Linked DNA regions of Homo sapiens. The protein of the gene in region 2 interacts with the protein of the main gene of each other region in a pairwise test. Each region holds a gene or a part of one and is shown on either strand. Other genes may lie near its edges.

Region 1 (7,107 bases), on a different chromosome or scaffold from region 2:
CCAGACTTTTATGTGACAGAGAAATAATAACAATAACAATAATAATAGCAGCAGCAGATACATTTACATAGCCTTACAATGTGTGAGGCATTCTTCTAAGCTCTTAATAAATACTAATTAATTCAATCATTACAACAATCCTATAAAGTAGGTTCTATTATTACTGTGTTTTTTAGAAAATGTGACACAGAGAAGTAACTGGCCCAAGGACAAACAGTTTTTAAGCTACTATTATTTAAGGGTTTCTATTAATTGCAGCTGAACTTAAACCCAATTAATATGCCCTTAGAAAAGAAGGTTAAACAACTTAATTATATTAATTATGAATTAATATGCCCTTAGAAAAGAAGGTTAAACAACTTTTATGTGGGGTTGATATCCAAGGTCTGACTGCAAATCCCACTTTCTTTGATGGATTCCCCCCCAAGAAACAGGTCAAGCTGCTCTAGAGTCTCTTTCTACCTCCTTTTACTCATGTCCAGAGACACAGGATCAAGCATGGTCTGCTCAGAGAATCAAACAGCAAAACTTTAACTCAACTTACAGAAGACAAGTATCTTGGCCTCTTTCCAAGTTGGTTTTGGGGTGTTTAGATATTTAAGCTGATCAGTGTAAACATCACCAAGTAAACCAGTTTCAGAATTATGATCACTAACCATCTACTATTTGTTACATATCTATCAGATAAGCTTTGCATTGAGGTCTTTAGTTTAAAATATCTAATATCCCTATGTGTTTAACAGACAATTCTATTAGAAAAAAAAACAAAACAAAACATTAAGACAATTTTTTCAAAACTTACCTTGATCATTCTGGATAGGTCGCCAGCATCTGCTAGTTCCAAAACTATGTTTAGTTCATTATCTTCAATGAATGATGCATAATATTTTATTACATTTGGATGGTTGAGTTGCTGAGAAAATAAAACAGGCATCAGAAAGTTTTCTTACTGTAAATATCCAAGAGTCACTTATAGTTTTGTACTTAAGAACAAACTTCACCGTATTTTTTAAATTACAGAAATCTTAACATGACAGTATACTTTTCTTTAGTGAATTGTGAAACAAATATTACAATTATTAAAAGTAAAACTAGGTATAAATTAATTTATCTTAATATTCTTTATTAGAAAGAATATATTTTACGTTTAAATCTTAATTTAAAAGTACTGCTATGCCCAATAAGCATATCAACAGATGCAAGAAGTAAATGATAGAATTAGGTCGCCAACTGCTAAAAATTACATCCTCAAAATGAGAACTTTCATTTAGGAACACTCAATGATAAATAAAGTATCCCTTTTTACTCCTACTTGGAAGTTATGGTTGGTCCTAGAATAACTCCAGCTAGTAGACAAAACACAGCTGGTACCTACTATACTATATCTAACTATTGCTTTTATATCAAATAACATACAGGACTTATTCATGTGAGCCAATTCATAAAATCATCCCTAAGAAAAATTTTACCTTGTAGAAATATACGTATCAGTCCCTACTCATTTGCAATCCTTTTGTTCAATCTTTAAACATATTAATACAAGATGAATTGTTTCTCTGAGAAATTATGCAGAAAGTATGGGTGACTTTCTTCTTTCTACTTAAAGTTTTCGCTGCAAATTTTCTATGATGACATGCTATTTCCACAGTAAAAGTTTACATATATTTAAGCCAGCTACTTCATGTGCCAAGAAATAACTACAACTAACAGAATAGTCAGAAAACATTGTTTTGACCTTACTTTCTTCCTTTTTGCATAAATCTGGTTCATTTTAGGCACTAACACAAACGGATGGCATAAAAAAAGAGCGAAGTCTTAACTAAAAGTTAAAAATACAACATAGGCCGCAGTATTTCTCAAAAGAAACTTCACTATAAAAGAAGCAGTGCAGAAATAACTGAAATCTCAGTCATATTCTTAGTAGATGAGAAACTAAAAAGCTAATTCCTGGCATACTCTTTACATGCACTCTGTCTAAGTCTGGAAAAAGTATTGAAACATTAGAAAATGCATGTGAACCATTTTGATTAGTCCACATTCTCAATATAATACATGTTGAGATAATGCTAATTTGCATTTATATTACTTAACCTTTAGAATATGTCTTGTTGGGGTGGTCAAGAAAAAAAAATTCTTCAATGTTTTATGCCCATTTTATCTATTTCCTACTTTGAAATGAGAAAAAAAAGCTGGTCCTACAAATGTTCTGATTATGTTATTTAACAATAAATCCAAAAAATAACTACATTCTTCAGTATACTGAAATTTAACCTTATATAATATTACTTGAAATCAGTGTAGCATAAGTCTTAAAAACCTTTTTGTGTTTAAGTGTGATATTTTAGTAAATCACTTTTATCACCATGTTATGTTCAAAAGAGTCAACAGTTCATTAATTACCTTAAGAAGATCTATTTCTTTGATGCAATCAGCACGTGCTTTGGCATCCATTAAATCAAATATCTAAAAACAGAACCCAGAATTACTTAATAAAATAATAACCTATGGTTCAAGCTATTGTGTAAATTCATTTTAATACTCTACATGTAATTATTTGTACACTAAGGAATTTTCTTTCTGATTAGCTTTTCTTTATTAAGGAGTTCTGTAGGTATCTTATGTTACCAACATTGCTTACATTTTCAGCAGTCAGTATTTAAAAAATGGATAAAGAGAACAGGTAGATACCCCTTAACACTCAGGTCTTAAGTTCCAATGAACAAAATTAAAGTTGTGATTATTAAGATGATAAAGTAATAGCTAATATATGTTGAGCAATTAATATATGCTAAATGTACTGCACAACCTTATGAGGATGATAATAGTAGTATTCCCATTTTACAGATGAAGAAGAGAAGCTTTAGAAAGCTAAGGAGAATGACAAAAGGTCACACAGCTAATCAACAGAGCAAGCAGAATTCATTCTCAGAGTTATCCATCTAGAACCCAAGCACTGAACCATTAATCTGTTCCATCAAATCATGTCTAAAAGGTCTGATGCATGCATTCTTGACAAGGGTGATATCATTCCAAGGGGGTGAAAATTGGTTCTTTGTGGAGAAGGGTAACAAAATTTTACTCTATTAAGTATAAAGTATAGATACACATACAGTACTACACATAAACAGATATACTGTATTTGTGGAATTAAAATTTCATGGGTAGAGGTAATTAGGAAGAAATGTCTAAACAGGCAGCTTGGGGGGAGGATAATGAAGAAAAGGTTGAAAAATATTAACCTACTGTTAAAAACATAAAAATAAAAAATACAATCAAAAAGATATTTCATGTGTCTCTGAAAACACAAATCTCTCAAGGTTCTAAGTGTGTGGAAAATAACATTTAAAAAAGCAATATCTTAGAGACTGCAAAAAAAATCTAAGTCAGTACTGCAAGCTGATTAAAACCCTAGTTACATAACAAATAAAAAAATTAATGACATTTTTAGTAATCAGCTTGATCAAGTCTTCCTGATTCAGCCAGCTAACATTCCAGGAAAAGAAGGTACAATGTCAAAGGAGTGGCAGAATCCAAGTCTTTTTAATTAAAGAAGTAGTTATTAGACACTACCAGAGAGGGCTGGCCTCTTTACACATGATGCTTTAAACTTCATTGCAATCTTATAAGACAGGTAGTATTGGCCACAATAACAAGATGAGGATTGAGGCTCAAAAAGATTAAATAATATGCTTATGATCATAAAACTAGTAAAGGACAGAATCAGGACTTGAAGCCAGGTTGTTCTAGCTCCATAGTCAGTGTTTTCTCAATGAGCCAGGCTGTCACAAAGTCTAATGCATACACAACTAGCTAATAAGTATTAAAATATATGTGTGTACAAAGTGTAGTATTAGAAACCTAAGGAAGAAATTCCTTCCATGTAGGGTGGCGGGTACCATTAGAGGTGAACCTTGAAAGAATTATAGGATTCTGCCAGTCAGAAACAAAAGATATCTACTGCATAAAAGTAAATATGGAATAAGGGTGTAAAATTACAGCTTATAAGAGGCAACTTTTTCTAGATATCATTCTTAATATCCAAAGATACACAAAGTTCTAATTTGTCTTAATTTAAAAAACCATATGAAGATATTAGATAAGATTATAAAGCAAAAATAAAATCCATAAACTCACTGCCTTAAAGAATTTTAGCTTTGGCTCAGTCCCTTCTATTTCTTGTACAAACGCATGTGCTTTTTGCATAGTGAAAATAGCAGTATATAAAATGATATATATGCTTTTTCACTAACATTATTTTGGTTCTACTACTTCTAATGAAAACTTCAAGTATCAAATTTACGTTCTGCAACTTTTAATGTAAAATATTGAGCACTGCAGTTTAAGATTTGAAAAAATATAAAGCCTTACCTTACTTGATGGTTTACAAAAAGAGACAGACTAGATTACATCAAAGTTTCTCCCACTTAATCAAATAACAGAAGAAGAAATATGTATGCCGGTACATATATTAAAGAGAGTTAACTTCTCTTTTTTCCATTAGCAGTAATTCTAACCATGTCAGCCACAGTAAACTCATGTTAACTACCATGATTTCAGAATGGAACAGAATGCAACACGATGAAACAACAGCAAGGAAAGGAAAAGGGGTTAAAAAAAAAAAAGGAAAGGACTATGAGTGGCAAATCACTATCACAAAGTTCACATAAACTATCTAGTAAGATATGTTTTAGCTAACATTAAGCTGTTGTATACATTAAGCTTTGACAAAATGAGCTAGATATAAATGGACACCAATAGCAGGGGTTAAAAAAATTACCAGTATTAAAGAACAAACCATATGACACTATTTATGGAAGGAAGGAAAAACCTTGCAGAAATTTTCTCCAAGAGCATCATAGTTTTAACTCTACACACAAATTATTAATATGAATAACCTGATCCTGAGTACAGACAAGCTTAAACTGTTAATGCCCACCCTTTCTACATATAAAAATCCATGCTGAATGCCATCTTACTATCAGATTTTATTACAGATACAAATAAGAAAACCATCTTGCAGTCCTTTAAGATGCACAGTGTCAGATGCAGAATGCAGACTGCAACACAGAAAATTAACACGCAACTTGTAAGTGCTACTTGTTCAAAGTGATGTAAGAACCTTAATGGGGGTGAGCATGGCTGGCTGGAAGGGCTCTCAATAACTGATTTATATAAGCAGGAATGCGTAATGCCCTTCAGGAAAATATATATGTGTGTGTGTGTGTGAGTGTGTGTGTAAAATCGAAAGTTCTTGAACTGAAGGAATAAGCTTTACATTTAGCAATTTCACATAGAAATGCCATTCATTCCCCCAAAGGGATTATTATATCAACATGTTAAACAATAAAACAAACACTAATGGAAACAGAAAAATTTGAACTTGATATTAGTTATAGGTATGAAACACACACACACAGACTACTTGCACTTTAAATCAAAATGGCATGAGAAATAACTGATTCTTGACACATCATAAATGCTGATGCCATTCTCAGGAAATGCTATTTACAAGGAATTTGAGATAAATCAAAGATATACTGGAAAGCACAAAATTGTAAGTATATCAGATCTTGATGTAATTCCTGGTATTTTTGTTTGTTTGTTTTAGGAGGCAGAGAAAGAATAATGCCCATATAGTACCAGTAATTAAAATGAAGAAAATCACAAACTTGGAGACATATATGTATTTAATCTCTCAGTAATCAATGTCTCTATGATGTGGAACAACATTTTTAAAAACAAAAGAGGGTGAGTGAGATAAGAATGAATAATAGATGTATAAGAGTTTTAGGAAACCATAACAAGATACAACATATCAAGATAGAAACATGCTACATAGAAAATCTTTAATTCAAGTTATAAAAATTAATTTAGAATTACAAATTGACTTTTATTTTTAACTGAATTTTCAATAATATCAAAAGTCACTCCTCAAACACAGGGAGAAATAAGCATTGATGGCACATCTAAAGCAAAACTAAATTCTGAGCAAAATACATTTACAAATACATTTAACTGGAAATTCAGAAGTATCTTATCTTTCTTTTTCTCTCAGCCAACAAGTCAAGACAAAAATAAATAATAATGAATATTTAGATTACATCATTCCCAAACACAGATTCAAAGCTGTCCGATGATTTCATGAGCAAGAAAAAGCAGTATGTCTTGGGTGAAAATATGGACTTTGTAAGAATATCTTGCATATAATATGTACAAACAAGTCTTTAGGAGGCATCATTTTCATTCAGCTCCACCAAAGTTTCTTCAGGTTTTTAAACTCATTTTATACTTGGTAAGAGCAAGGGATGAGCTGTGGTTAGGCAAGTAATGACTGATAAATTCTTGGTATTCTCTGAATCATTTTAAAGGTTTTCTTTTGTCATCTTAAAATTTTGCCAAAATTACTCATAGCTAATGAAACTGAAAAGGTTAACACTAGATTTCTTTAAAAGGAAATGAAATCCTTCTAGTAACTTAACAGAAATATCCCCTTAAAAAGGCATATGTCAAATTGTTAGAAGAAAGACCATTTAAAATGCAGAAAACAAAGTACTTAAAAATATATACTAAGCAAGTTTTTGTTGTTGTTGTTTTTCTTTTTTGAGAGAGTCTTGCTTTGTCTCCAGGCTGGAGTGCAGTGGCGTGATCTTGGCTCACTGTAACCTCCACCTCCCGGGTTCAAGCGATTCTCCTGCCTCAGCCTCCCAGGTAGCTGGGACTACAGGCGTGTGCCACCACACCCAGCTAATTTTTGTATTTTTAGTAGAGACAGGGTTTCACCATGTTGGCCAGGATGGTCTTGATCTCTTGACTTCGTCATCTGCCCGCCTCAGCCTCCCAAAATGCTGGGATTACAGGCGTTGAGTCACCGTGCCCGGCTCTACAGCTGGAACCTTCCTGTCACTACCCTTCAGATGACTGACTCCTTATCCTCCACCTACGCTTAAATTTCACATCCTCGGAGAGGCCTTTGCTGCACACTCTATCTAAAATGCTCTCCTCCTCTAGTTTGTCTCTAATACCACAGCATGGTCATTTCCTTTTTGGCTATAATTATTTGATTTATTTTTTGCTATAATTATTTGATTTATTGTCTATTTTCCACAC
Region 2 (7,462 bases):
CTCAAAAATATACATATATTTTTTAAAGGACTTTTGGACTTAGCACTGACTGATCCACAGGGTCTCTCGAATCAAGAGAATAAACCTAGGCTGATGCAGAAGGATCCACTGAGCCCAGGAGTTGGAGGGTGCAGTGAGCTATGATGGCACCACTGCACTCCAGCCTGGATGACAGAATGTGACCTTGTCTCAAAACAAAAAAGAGGAGAGAGAGAGAGAGAGAAGAGAGTAAACCGAAGACAGTCAAATGGTTTTGATCTCCCTCAATGTTATCCCACCCAGAGAATCAGCCTAATTGGATGAGCAGCTAGAAACACAGCCTGCTGCACACATCTCACCCAGGAAAGAGCCAGCCAAACGAGGGGATGTGGCAAATCTTACTCAGTGTGGACAACAAGGTCATTTGGTCTTTCAAATAAAATGTCCTCTGATTTCAATAAAACTGAAACTTACAGCCACCCTCAAAAAAAAAAAAAGGAAGCCACAAATGTGGTGTGATATGACTGATGTTTCTTTTCTTTTGTTTTCTTTTCTTTGAGATAGAGTCTCACTCTGTCGCCCGGACTGGAGTGCAGTGGCGTGATTTCGGCTCACTGCAACCTCCACCTCCCAGGCTCAAGCGATTCTCCTGCCTCAGCCTCCCGAGTAGCTGGGATTACAAGCATGCGCCGCTACCGCCCAGCTAACTTTTTTTTGTATTTTTAATAGAGACGGGGTTTGACCATGTTGGCCAGGCTGGTCTTGAACTCCTGACCTCAAATGATCCCCCCGCCTCAGCCTCCCAAAGTGCTGGGATGACAGGTGTGAGCCAACGCGACCGGCCACGATTGATGTTTCAAAGCCTCCGTCTGCCCAGAAACCTCTTCTTTCTCTGCTTTGGCATGGTTCTTCCAACTCCAAGTTCAAATTCCTACACACAGAACTGGCAAAGGTAAGGCACTGTCTGCAGGAAGCCACTCAAAGAGTGTGTATCTTTCTTGGAGATAAAAGAAGTAAAGAGATTTCCTCCAGCTTCCTCCTCTCCCAGGTTTGCTAATTGGCACCCTGAACTCATAGATTAGCAGGAAATGGTAACATGTATCTTAAGAGATCATCTGGTGTAGTCCTCTGCCTAAAGGGGGAACATGTTATTATGCCCATTTCATAGATGAGGCCACTGAGTTGCTTTGCTAAAACGACACAGCTCTTTGGTGGGAAAGAACGAGAGCCTAGGTTTCCTGCCTCTTGACACAGGGTTCTTGCCACCTGATCAGTGTCCTGGTAGGAGGACATAGAGACCTGTCCCTAAACACCGAAACTGAAAATAAGGGGTCCTGTGACACGGCAGGGCTTGGACCACCTCAGTAAAAGTCAAGAGAAAAGAGTTGCAGAAAAAAAGGCAAAAATATGTCCTATTTCACCTTTCCCAAGGCCAGTCCTGACAAACACGGCACATCAAGGCTGCCTCTTCATTCCTTGGAACACGACATTCCTTCTAAGTCTCTGAAGGCCTTTCCTGAGGCTGAAATGGCCCCTCAAGAGGGAAGCATGGGATTCCTGGAATTTATGTCTGGAAATATTAGAGGGCCTGGGGAACAGGAAAACCCACTCCTGCCACACAAAAAGGTCAACAGAGAAAGACCAGACTAGATCCTGGCTGTGGCTGAGCAAGTCGGGGGAGGTGGGGATCTGTGCGGATCTGTGCCAGGGGCTAGCAGGGAGGGCAGGGCCTTCCCAGATCCTCTGGAATTCTAAGCCAACCGGACAATCGAGTTAGCGTAAGGGATGGTTTTGGAAGAGGCCGGTGATGGGAGCCGATGATGGGAGCCTGCCGGAGGTTCCACAAGAGCCTAGAGGAAGCCTAGAGACGCTGGCACAATTCAGTCCTCACCGAAATCATTTCCTCTTTCTACAGTTCTTGTACCCCCATCTTGACAGATCAGTTCGCACAAGAATGCGACCCTTTCGCTGCCCTTTTTTAGGAAATGGTTTTCATGAGACCAGCTTTGCCAATGACACGGGCGGGTACACCAGATGCTAATGGCTGCTGAAAACGCCCTTAGAACCGGCTCTTCTTTTAGAAGAAGGAATTCTGGAATGCGGAGTGGGCCCCCGAAAGGAAGCGACCCTACGTTTATCTGAATTCCCAGGGGCGGTTCGCCAGCGGCTCCCTGCGTCCTCGCCGGGTCCCCTGTCTGCAGTCCCCGGGCCGCACGGATTGACTGCTTTTTTGTTTCTGGCTGCTTTAAGGCTTCTTCGGGCGGAGAAAACCCCACTTTAGGGGAGTGATGGTGGGGAGGACTTTCCCAGGCAGCTTCTTTCACCCGCAGCAGGGAAGTTTGCAGGGCGCGCTCCGCACAGGTCACTGCCTCACCTTCCACCCCGGCCGCGCCCTCGGCTTTCACCCCCTTGGCTGGGTTCGCTTTTGGTTTTATTTTTCTGTTTTACGTGAGTAAATCAATTGCCCCCAGGAGGCAAAAGAGCACTCAGCGACTTGGCTGAGCAACTTAAACTTTCTGCCGGAAGGAAACTATCAAAAGCGGAGGAGAAAGCCCTCGGGGCCCCAGACTCGCCGCCACTGCCCCGTCCCCGCTGGGGGTCCCCGCGAGGTCGCCGCGGATCCGGGGACTCGCGGGCCGGGAGGAAAGAGCGGAGTAAGCCCGGGGCAGGCTCGGACCCGGACCCCGGCAGGGTGAGAGCGGGGGCGGACCAGAGGGGCGCACGGACGGCGGGGAGGCGGAGAACAGGCGGGGTGCGGAGAGCGAGGGGCGCGGAGAGCGAGGGGCGCACGGACTAGGGGAGCCAGGGGGACCCGGGGAACCAGGGGGCGCGCGGACGAGGGGGACGGGGGCTACGAGAGGGGTGCGGAGAGCGAGGGGATCACGGGGACTGAGCGCGCAGGGAATAGGGGAGCGAAGGGGCGCGAGAGCGCGGGCCGGGGTCCGCCGGCGGGTGGCGGCCAGGACTCACCCCGAGAAGGCACACTTTGAGCTCCCGTATCGCCATCATGTGCTCGCAGCCAGGCAGTGCCGGGGCTCAGCAGCATCCTCCGGGGCCGCCGCGCCCGCGCCCCGCCGGCGTCTCTCGCCTCTGCCCCTCGCTCGCGCCGCCCGCGGGCGGAACCGCCGCCGCTGCTATTTCTGGGCCGCCGGCCCCGCCGCGGTGGGTCACGTGGCCGCCGGCCGGCTCCTCCCGGGCGCGTCGGGTCCAGCCTCGCCGGCCCCCAGCTCCCAGGAACGCCCCCGGACGGCGTCAGCCACCCGGGACCTGCGGCGTCGCCGGCGGATTGCCTCCGCCCTCGGACCAGCCCCGCGCGGGTCGGCCTCCCCCAGCGCCCTCCGGCATCCGCCCCTCCCGGCCCCGCCTGGCCGCAGGGCCCGGGTGGGTAGGAAGGACTGGACCGGCCCTGTGGAGACCTGGCCCCACTACCAGCGGGTCCCTGAAGATGCCATTCTCATCTGGAAAGCGAATGCTCTCGGCCGAGGCCGTTTGCGTGGCAGCGCGTGGAGGTCTGCGGGGGTCCCATCCTCAAGCGACATTCTGGGTCCCACGCAGAAAAAGTCAGGCCACTGAAGGGGCCGCTGTGAGGACAGGGGTGAGGAGAAGGGGGCTAACTTTTCGGCCTGCCTTTCTCGACGTTCCTAATACCCGAGCTTCCGTTTAACATATGTGTGGCTCTTCAGCTCAGCCAAGTTCATTTTTCTGTATGCAGCTGAAAATGATTCTAGAAGCAAAACTCGCTGTCCGTGTCTGAAACGGGAAACTTGCTTTCTGGAGCAAAAGTCTTTTTCTCAGTAGAGCAAATCCTGCAACTCGTGTGGGCAGAAACCCAGTCCTCAGAGGTACAGGTAGAAACGTGGAGATCCCAGCAGACCCCTGCATCGTTCCTAACTGGGAAATGAGCAGAGTCTGTGGCCGCACACAGTCGGGGAGGCTTGGGTAACTGTGTTCTCTTCTCCATGTATGGCCTAGAGCACCTCATCCACTCGGATGACTTCATTCGTTGCTGCTACAGAAATGTCAGCCTTTTCAATGTAATCTATCTGAACAATTCACTGGCATTTCAGATGGGAAATGTTTTTTTAAAAACTGATTTTTTGAAACTTCATCTCCTATCCCAAACTCTCAGGCCTCTCTCTTAACCTTCCAATTTTAATCAATGGCATTTCCATTCTCCTAGCAGACCACCCACCGTGATCATCTGGCTTTGTTCTTACGGAAGCCAGGTTGAAGCTACCCAGTACCCAAGTAGCCCCATCCAATGGGAAATTCCAAATCAAGGCCTCCAAAGAGATAAGTCCTGGAATACAGGAGTCAAAATGGGCCCCGAAACAGACAATTCACAATTAAATTCCCCAGAAGAGCAGGAAGTTTGCCCTCGAGGTGCAGGCTTGTAGAGATTACTCAAATGGACTAAACTGTACAAAAGGCAGCCATGGACAAGTTACAGGTCCATTGTATCAGTATCCGTCCTTGACTCTGTATCCAAAGCAGAGTCTTCTATGTGGGCAGGGTAAAAAGAGGCTTCCCCAGAATCAAACAGTCCTGATCACAATATCTCCCTGCCCTCAGATTTGCTAATCAGAAAACCACCCCTACACAGTTGCAAAGACACCTCCCCCAAGGCCTTCGCCAGCCCTGAGGGCACCTCCACAGTGAAACATGTCCTTTTGGCTTTCCAGCTTGATTCCCAAAAGCCAGTCAAACCAGGGTGGAAGCCTCCACTGTGTTCTACATCCCGTGCAGTGAGTGGAGCTTTGTGAAGTTGCCTTAGATTGCTAAGGGCAGAACTGTGCCCAGACAGAAATAGGCAAACCGAATTTCTCTTGTGTTCCCTTACTCTTTTTCATGACTGCTCTCATTCTGCTCTCTTCTCCACTAGCCCGGGTGTCTGGGACGCTTGCGTCGTTTCTAGGCTCTCCCAAAAGAGTCTCGTATCCAGCCCTTCCCTCCCTGAGAATCGCCCCAGTCTATTTGTCCTTCTCCCCTCCCCTAGTTCTGTTAAAAATGACCTCATTTGTGTCTCATTCTGATCAGGTCTTGGGCTCTTCTTTACAAAGTGGCAATCCTAGTCTGTCAACTGACTCGTGTTCATGGGTTTATACCCTCTTCCCAGCCAGGTCACCCCTGAGCTTAAACATGGCCTCATGAAAACCAGGTCCCCATGATCACCCTAAGGTAACCTACAAAGCTCTAGCCCTGGAAGGCAGGAAGATGACTGCTGGGAGACATATTTTAAGAGTGACACGTCAGAGGCAGCTCTCGACTTTTTAAAAAAGTGCCATGTTCTCTATTGTTACACTCTATGATTACTGTACTAAGGGCCCATCCTGACTTCTCTGGAATTTTCTGCAAATATGTAGTTCTGGTGTAACTTCAGCAGGGGTAAAAATTCAATGGTACATAACTGACAATTTATCAAATTAAGAAATAGAACATGCAAGTTTTTCTTATAAGAATTTTGTAACGTAAATGGTCATTGTGCTAATTCAGACCTCAACTTCTCTGCTGCTATAAAGTCTCCAACAGAAAAAGCCAGTAATGGTCATAAAACTGATCATGTTTTTTGATTCAGGAAATCCTTTTTTGAACAATAACATACAAAGACGAAAAGTAAACAAAGCTGCCTGTTTGAATATAAACACATATGCAGACAAAAAAAACAAATAAATGGGTTAGAGAAACAACAACAAAAAAATTACATCCATGGAGGTAAAGGGAGGATTGTTGCGTTAATTGTAACTCAAACCTCTTAACACTTGAGGAATGATTAAGCAAGCTAGGGTGTCGTTACTGGGTATATTTGATGGTGTACAATAGTATATGTTACTTAGATATTAAATGAAATGTGTATACTATGTAGATTTATAGAGACGTTTATAGTAAATAAGGTTCTGTGAAAATAATATGACTCAAAATGTTAAATAGGATAAGCAATATAAATGTGTCACAACGCCCTGGAGTGCAGGCTGATCCCTGGAGACCAGTACTGAGTCATCTGGTCTGCTCAAGGGCCAATTAAGGAAAGATAAAAATGTTTACAAACCTTGTTTTTCATAATTTATCTTTTTTATGGAACTATAGTGTCTGCAATATCAGTTAAACAGCCTTTTAGTATTTCTCATTTATGTAACAACTCCTTCCTTCCTTCTTTCCTTCCTTCTTTCCTTCTCTTTCTGAAACTTTCTAAATAGCATGTGCTACCTAACCTTATTTGTAACCCACGCCCTTTAAACAAATTTTGAGGAGATGAATCCTGGACATACCAGGGTAGGAAAGGGATTTGAGGGATTTAGAAAAACAGAGGTGAGTGGACCCCACAATTCACCCACAGACTTGAAAAAGGAGACAATAGCTGGAGGGGGGAGGCTGGAAACTGAAGGAGCCTGTCTGTGGGAAAGGGAGCGTCCCTGAGAACCCCAAGGAAGGTGGCTGCTCGGTGGAGGGGCTATTAGGTAAGCGGATAGAAACTGCACAGCCTCCTTTGCAATTCCAGATGTCTTCATGTGGAAAGTGTGGTGACATCTTAGATGGGAGATGGGGAGGGTGGGGGCTCGCCTCCTCATCGTCTCCATCGCCTCAAATGGGAGTGCTCAGAAGTGTTCCAGAACAAGTAGACAGCTCTCACTGAAGACAGGGAAGGCTCTGTTGGGATCTCACAAAGGATTGGTGTCAGGTGATAATGTTTAAATTTTCCAGATTCCTGAGAGCCAGCACTGGGCAGCTTAAGCCATCCTCAGCATCCAACTGGCCTCTTTACTGACACTCCTGCCTAGCAACCTCCACTGTCCCTTGGATCTCTGGCTGAGCTTAAAGTGTTGGGTTAAAAGAAAATAAGCAATAAGATATATATTAACACCTCCCATGGAAGGTAAACGGATTGATTCAGCTGTGACCACCTCCCGAAAGCCCTAAGTAACATGTAATTCAGTCAGTCCTGTTCATTTTCATTGCTTACTTGTAAAACTGAGAAATTAAACTACAATGATGCAGATCAAAGTCACCACAACCCCAGTTTCGTTTCATAGACTGTCTTGGGTTATTTCTTCTGGCGAGTCAGAAGTTTTCCTGCAATTGCTCAGAGTAATACACGGAGTTTAGGATTTCTTTTTCTTAAAAGGAGTTGTGTTTCACTTTTTTGTACCTTGATATTATTTGCTCTCAAACTAAAAATTGGTTTAATTTTAGATGTTGGCAACGATTCTCATATCACAGGGATTTCTATGTTTAGCTGTTTACCCACCCATTCGGCAAATAGCAGACACTGACTGTGCTAGACACTGGAAGAATGACCAATGGCGGAAGAAGACCCACGTTGACGTCGAGCTATAAAGGAAAGAGACAAACATATAAACAGGAGACTATTGTATGATGTGAAATGTCTGAGGCTTGGTGTAGTTGCTTCATTTTTGTAGATCTTCTTATTCAAGAAATGGGTATAAATTCCAGAGATGCCAAACCTTGAATTCAACTGAAATCAACC
Region 3 (7,107 bases), on a different chromosome or scaffold from region 2:
GACAATGTCACCCCCTTGGCCACCCCAGCAGGGCTCTCACCTTCCTGAGGTACAGCTGCAGGGCCTTGGGCTCCCGGTGCTGCAGCAGCTCCTCCAGGATGTCTTCCATACTGCCCACACTGTCCTCAGGGTGGGTCCTGGGCACCACACACAGCATCCCTCACCCACACCTCGGCCCAGCCCCCTCCCCCCAGGAAGCCCTCCCCAGCCCACCCTAACCTGTGCATGCTCACACAGCCGGCCTCACCTCTCGCAGGACAGGTAATCCTGAGACCTACGCAGCTCCCTGGAGCTCTGCACGTCGAAGCCCAGCAGGGCCTCCTGCAGGTCCCTGGGGCAGCCAGCACACACAAAGTCCCGGAAGGGGCTGTAGACTCCCTGCCAGCGGCTTTCCACGGGGAAGGCACCCACGCCCAGCTGCCTGCGATGGGGATGGAGGGTGGGTGATGGGGCAGAGAGAGATGGAGCTGAGGTAGGCAGGACTCTGCCCAGGCCCTTGGAGGGGTGGGGGTATGAGCCTGGCCCAGGATCAAGCCCCAAGAAGGGTGGATGGATTGAACCATGCAGAGGGGGCTGACCTCCACGGCTCCAGGAGGAAGAGCAGCAGAGAAAGGGACAGAGAATCTACCCTGCGACGAGAAGACAGACAGAAGCATATGGAATCCTGGAAAGACGGAGACAGAAAGGTGGGCAGATCTGGAGGCCAAGCCAGAGAGGGGGTCTTGGTCCAAGAGAGACCAGTGTCCAAAGTCTGGGATTCCCCTCCAAGACATCCCCCTCTGCCCTCCCTTACAGCTGGTTCCTTCCTGTGGTTGATCCCGCCCTGGCCAACAGGCTGGGGCCTGGCTGCGCATGTCTAATGGAGCCCTGCACTCCAGTGTCATGCTCGTAGGCTACACGCAGCCCACACTCACACCCAGGCTGGGGCCTGCCCCTAGGGATTGCTGTCCACTCCCAGCTCCTGCTGTCAGGGAGAAGCAGCATGCAGGGACAGCGGGCCAAGTAGTCAACTGTACTCCCTCCCTACATCTGAAATGCTGCCTGGGACCACTTCCCATTAGAACTGCCACCCACACAGATTCCTTCCTCTGTGCAATACTGAGTCTTCCTCAACAGACGCAACAAGAGCAACTGTTTTCCAAGGAGGAACTCTGTTCCTACAGGAAAAGAAGTCTATCCTTCTCTGGAATACTCCTTGATAATGACTGTGATTCCACTTAGCAAGTTTCCTTCTTTACCTTGGCTGCCAGGAAACTCAGAGCCAGGCTCAATGATCAGTTGTAAATGCCGTAGGACATGTCTACATATCCCTTTCTTTTAAGGTTAACATATGCTCTTATTTTCTATTTTTTTTTTCCTGTATGTTTGGTTTGTAAACCGTATTGTATCCTTTCGAGACAAAAAAAAAAAAAAAGCAGGACCTAAGCAAAGCCTACAAATAATATTTCTCTCCAGTTTTGTGGTGTACCGCATTATATCCACACAGCCCCTGATCCCAAGAGTCTCTGACTGGAGTTGTACACCCTGGGCTCTCGGAACTCTCTAGAGGGCTAAGAGGTGGGTGCAAAAAGGCCCCTCTGAGGAGACCTGAGTCTTTGGGATGGAAACACAGACACATCCCCAGATAGGCCCAGAGCCAGAGGGGCCAGGCACTCACCTCTTGCAGGTACTGCTCGGGTCTGGTGGGAGGGCAGCCGTGTCCAGCACACCCTGTGTGTGCAGTCCTCTCCCTGCCCCACTGCCGAACGAGCCCTCCAGGGTGAAGCCATTGGGGAAGGTGACCTTGCCCTGGGAGCCAGGAGAAGGAGCAGGGATGTCTGTCTGCCCAGTTACCCTTCCAGCCAATCATGACAGGCCACAAGCCTGTCCATCAGTGTCAGAGAGGCTAAGGACTAATGAATGGGCTTCCCGCCATCCATTCAAGCTGCTCCATGCTGAGGGGTTCATAATCCTCTATGCCTGCCAGAGCCCCCCACCAACAGCTGTGCCCACGTCTCAGGGGCTCGCTCACCTCTGAGGTAGGAAGAGGAGAGAGATGCAGAAGGGACTCACAGGCAAGAGTGGGGAGACCACCACTGAGGGGCTGGGGTGGGGGTAAGCCCAGGGACAGGCAACGCCTGAGGAGGGCGGTGTCTTGCCACATGAGGCTGTCCCATTCATAGCAACCTGATCTCCACCCCTTTGCTCCAGTCATTATGAAACCAAAACAGCCCCTACATTTCCAAAGGCTCCAGCGGGGACACATTGCCTTTTCCTGGGTTAGCTCAGGGAGGCACACACTGAAGGCCAGTGCCTCCAGGGACAGCTGCTCGAGGCACTGGTACTGGTGGAGGGCGTGTATTCTGAACTAGGAGGGTATGGAGGGACACAGCCAGGAGACCACCGGTACCCTCTGGATAGCAGGCAAGGCCACTGGTCCCCTCTCACCTCACTCCAGAATCAATCGCAACTCTGTGGCAGGGTGGAGTTGCTGTGCCCACTCCTTGGCTCCAAGGGAGGTGGGACAGGCCCTCCCCTACCTGCCCCCAGCCCTGAGTCTAAGTGGGGAGATTACAGACACCAACCAAGGCCTTGGCAGGGTGTGGAGGGGGGCCTCAGTGGTCCTCACCTTCCCCATGAGGGTCAGGTCCCTGGTGAAGGTGCCCTCATACAGGGAGTCGTCTTCAGAGAGGAGGATGCCCGGGCCCTTGGGGAGAGGAAGCCAGGGAGGGTAGAAAGGGTGGGTGAGGAAGGGCCAGGAAACTCAGGGTGGAGAGAGATGGCCAAAGAAGGGAGATGTGCCCTGACACATGGCGAGAGGGGCCCTGAGCCTCATCACGCCCCACAGGACTGTACCTAATTGGGACTCTAGCCTTTGGCCTGCTAAGCACCAGCCCCGAGGACCCCATCCCTGGATTTCCCCAAATGACACCCTCCGCCCTGGCTCCTCACCCCAGCGGCTTCTTCAGGAAGCCCTTGGGAGCTCAAGAAATGTGGGGCTTTCTCTGAAACATCCCTGCTTCCCTGCTTGTCACTGGCCCTGGGAACGGCAGAGCTGACCAGGCTCCCTTGCCCCATGGGCTGCCGGGAAGCTCAGAGCCGAAAGGGTTACAATTAGTGTTCGGCTTATTTCCAAATCTATTTTGTGTACTTATTCTTCCCCTTGTCTTCCTCTTTCCTTGAAGGCCTCCTTCAATCCTTTCGAGAATGAAGTAGAGCATAAACAAACCAACAGACCATAATAACAGGAACAGCCATCAGGCCAGAGCCCCACATTCCCCAGGCACCTGGAAGGGTATGGGTGAGGCAAACATGGGAGTCCCAGGCTCGGCGGCCAGGCTCAGCAGACCAGGGTGTGAGTGTCAGCTCTGCCACTCAGTGAAGGTGACATGGAGCAGGTCCTCTGATCCCTCTGAACCTCTCATTTGTCATTCACTAGGGACACACTAGGGATAATAATGACATCAACCTGCAGGGCTCTTGGGAAGATCCCACAAGATCAGGGTGGGAGCTTAGCCCAGAGCCAGGTGTCAAGTTAGGACTCTGTGAATGTCAGCTAATGCATCATCATGAGCAAGTGCTCCATTCTTGTTAGTTCATTGAGTCTATGGTAAGTATTCTTAACCTGAGTTGCTGATGGGGAAACCAAGGTCAGGCAGAGCAGGGATTGGCCAGGGCCAGGGGAGGTGGGTGGTAGAGCTGGCTTCCTGCCCAGGTTCTGGCTCCCTCCAGCACCCAGGAACACAGCCCCCTTTCCCATCCCTCCCTGAAAGGCCTCAGCTCAGCCTCAGTGCCCCCAGCGGGAGTGGGGTGCAAAGAGAGGGATAGCCCAGGATACACTCCACTCACCACCGTCTTGTCCGCCTGGAAGGTGCCCTGGTAGCAGACACCTGCCTGGGTGACCATGACCCCTGGGCCGTGGCGCTGACCAGCCTGCCACATGCCAATGTAGCGCTCACCTCTGGAAGGAGAGGAATGTGGCCAGAGTTGGATCAGACTCATTCCCATGTACCTCCTGGGCACTCTGCTGGCACGGGGCGGCAGGGAGTGCAGATAAGGGGCAGTGACATCACCTGAATCCACTCAACAGACACAGTGCCAGAGAGGTCAGGACCCCCAAGAGGAATAGAGAATGGAGGAGGGAGGGAGGCAGCCTGGGAAGGGCATCTGGGAGGCTTCTCCGTGGAGGTGGCAGGAAGGACAGGGGGAATAGGAGTGTGTGCAAAGCCATGGAGGTAGGAGCATGTGATGGATACGTGGGGACTTCAGTGGTCCAGAAAGGCTGGAGGGGTGCCCAGGAGACGCAGCTGGGGTGAGGTCAGAGAAGCAGGCGAGGCTGTGATTGCCAGGCCAAGGATCCAGGGCTTTATCACACAGCCCAGAGAGCCAGCAAGGGCTGCAGTTTTTAGACGTGACAGAGCAGGGGGTCAGAAATGCCTCTCCAACACCATGAGGAGGGGTGAGGGGCGGGGGCGACCCTGCAGTCAGCGTGACCAAGATTCGCTCAGCCTGAGCCTCCGCAGCAACCGAGGGACTGGAGGGGAAGTGAGGGGCTTAAGAGAGACACAGTGGGGGACAAACAGGAGCCTGTGTCCTGCAACAATCTGGTCTGTGAGGGCCCGGTCCACCCCTCCGTCCTGGGAGTGGTGGCTGCAGGGCGCTCACCTGTCACCATCCTCCTCAATGCCATAGCCGCTCCTCTGGCCCCTCTCCCAGTGGCCCGTGTACCTGAAGGGCTGGGGGGCCTGCGGACCACTCTCAAGGACCCCAAATCCGTGCCGCAGGCCCTCCTGGAAGTAGCCCTTGTACACCTCGTCGGTGCTGTACCTGGGGAGGGCCATCAACAACGAGCTCTGCCTCATGGAGCTCAGCCCAGAGGATGGGCCCAGCCCATGAACCCCCCAGCCAGGGTCACTTACTCACAGATGCCGTAGCCACACATGCTGCCTTCTCGCCAGTGACACTTGTAACAGTCGAACTTGTCCTCAGAGGCCTGGGGCAGCAGGCGGATGCCGAAGCTGACAGCATGGTTGTGGGGGTGGGGATCAGCCCTGACCTGAGACGCCCATTACACCTACTCCATGCCACCCAGGAGTATCCCTGCCCCCAAGGAGCCTTCCAGACAACAGGGAGACTCTCAGAGGCCCTCAGCCTTCCTATCCTTCAAAGGGCCCCTCTCAGGACCCCTCCCTCCAGCCTGGTCCCGAGCACCTTGGAGCACCTTTTGGCCTGTACCACTCCCTCTGTGACCTCGAGCTGAGACGGGCCCCCTATTCAGGCCCCCGGTTCCCCTTTGGTACAGTGGGCGGGGGCTGGACCGGATTGTCTCTAAGTTCCTGCTTGAGGTTTGGGAATTCAGGATGGGGCCGGGCTGGTGACCACAGCAGGGGAGGAAAGCACCCTTCAGCCCACTGCACGCCTCCCAGCAGTAGCCCCAGCCAGCCTTACCCATGCTCCAGGCCCTGGCAGAAATTCCCCACGTGATTCCGCCCATCCGGCCATTTCAGGGTTCCCCTGGAACACAGTGGAGGTTCACGAGCCTCAGGCCTACCCACCCCTCAGCAACCTCAGCCACCTACTTTCTCAGACGCCCTCCCTTCCTCTTCCCTTGGACTGGGCTCCCTGCACCCACCCAGCCCTCTTGTCTGAGCTCCGAACATTCCTTGCAGAAAGCCCCTTTAGCCCTTTTCTACTCCTGGCCCAACTGTACCAGCAGCCTCATGGGGCACACTCACCACATCCCATAAGGAAAGCCCTGGAGACATCTAGGTTCCCTTTTTTCCCTTGACCAACAGGAAGCTCAGAGCTAAGAATCAAGCTCAAGTTTAATGCTGGTCTGTGGGGTTTCTACCACCCTCCTCCCCACTTCTGTGTTTTTTCTGTCCTTTTGTTCATAAGTCTTCTCGAGCCCTTTCTGAAAGGAGGCAGGGTATCAGAAACTAGCGGAGGTGCTTGAGAGTGTAGCCTTGTGAGTCCCTTCTGCTCTCTGGGTCTGTTTTCCCAGCTGTGGCATGGGGTGGGGCCACATGGTCTATAAAGGCTTGCCTGTCTGTGGGGTCACACAGACCTGTGATTGAGGCCGGCTCACCCTATCACTTGCCCTGAGACCTTGGGCAGGTTATGCCCATCACTAGGCCTCAGTGTTTGTACCTATGAAATGGGTAAAAGCACTCCATACAGAGCGTCTTCATGAGGACCGATGGAGATAGAATGTGTGCAAGCCATTTCAACACTGCCAGACAATGAGGTACAGATGTGAGAATTATTCTCCCACCCTCCTAAGAATGGAATGGCACCTGCAGGCTGTAAGGCCAGCGCGTGGTTGCTGCCCCTTGTCCTCTAGCGTCACCATCAAGACTTTATTTGGCACAGACTGTCTCTGGGCCAGGCCCAGTCCAAGAGGACTTAAGAGGGACTCTGAGAATTGACTGTCCACAGAGAGTAACCGCTCCTGGAACATGTCCTGAGACAATTAGGCTTGTGTGCTGCTCTCTGCCCCGCAGACCCCCAGGGAGTCCCACCTTGCCACCCAGAGCTCCAGCCACTCACTTGCCGTGGGGCCGGCCCCTGCACCACTCGCCCTCGTAGGTGGCCTGGCAGAGCCGGCCCTCTGCCTGGAAGGTATATTCTGCGCAGCGGCAGTCGGGAGGCTGGGAGGGCTCCAGGCCAGCCCCCAGCACGGGGAAGTCCTTCTTCCCATGCAGGGCCTGGTGAACAGCCCAGGTCACCTTCCACTGCCAGACTGCCTGGTGGGAGGGGGAACATGGGGAAGGGGATCACTGCTGCTGGAGGCTTTCCCTCCAGGAAGCCTTCTGGGGTAGCTCCAGGTACCACCCCCTCCACCCTCCACCTCCTACTCCATTTTGTCACCTTGGGGACCCTTCAACTGCTTCTTGCTACTCTCTGGGCCCTCCACCCAACCTGAGATCCTCCTCTGCAGTTTCAGGGCCTGCCCAGAGGGGCCAAACAAGACCTCAGGGCAGGGATCAACACAGGACCCAATTCTGTCTTTAGAAAGAAAAATACCCTGTTCTTTTTGACATTCTAATTCTTGACCCCGATTTACTCTGACCAGGTCCCCAGAAGCCTGCCAGACACTCGCCGGCACTCCTGTGGGGCCCTGCAGGG

The links.
Region 1: the proteins of RAB31 (region 2) and NEK7 interact in binary tests that used the Homo sapiens proteins (3 or more experiments, as listed by UniProt).
Region 3: the proteins of RAB31 (region 2) and ALS2CL interact in binary tests that used the Homo sapiens proteins (3 or more experiments, as listed by UniProt).

Annotation. Positions count from the first base shown.
Region 1 is NC_000001.11:198,257,931-198,265,037, reverse strand, and holds part of NEK7 (serine/threonine-protein kinase Nek7), read right to left. Parts: intron 2,464-7,107; coding exon 2,401-2,463; intron 914-2,400; coding exon 803-913; intron 1-802. UniProt on the Homo sapiens protein: Protein kinase which plays an important role in mitotic cell cycle progression. Required for microtubule nucleation activity of the centrosome, robust mitotic spindle formation and cytokinesis.
Region 2 is NC_000018.10:9,703,932-9,711,393, reverse strand, and holds the start of RAB31 (ras-related protein Rab-31), read right to left. Parts: upstream 3,094-7,462; 5' UTR 2,989-3,093; coding exon 2,950-2,988; intron 2,723-2,949; exon of another isoform or gene 1,401-2,722; intron 1-1,400. UniProt on the Homo sapiens protein: The small GTPases Rab are key regulators of intracellular membrane trafficking, from the formation of transport vesicles to their fusion with membranes.
Region 3 is NC_000003.12:46,676,602-46,683,708, forward strand, and holds part of ALS2CL (ALS2 C-terminal-like protein), read right to left. Parts: intron 6,726-7,107; coding exon 6,529-6,725; intron 5,494-6,528; coding exon 5,428-5,493; intron 4,998-5,427; coding exon 4,899-4,997; intron 4,807-4,898; coding exon 4,645-4,806; intron 3,941-4,644; coding exon 3,829-3,940; intron 2,687-3,828; coding exon 2,609-2,686; intron 1,789-2,608; coding exon 1,658-1,788; intron 422-1,657; coding exon 248-421; intron 138-247; coding exon 41-137; intron 1-40. UniProt on the Homo sapiens protein: Acts as a guanine nucleotide exchange factor (GEF) for Rab5 GTPase. Regulates the ALS2-mediated endosome dynamics.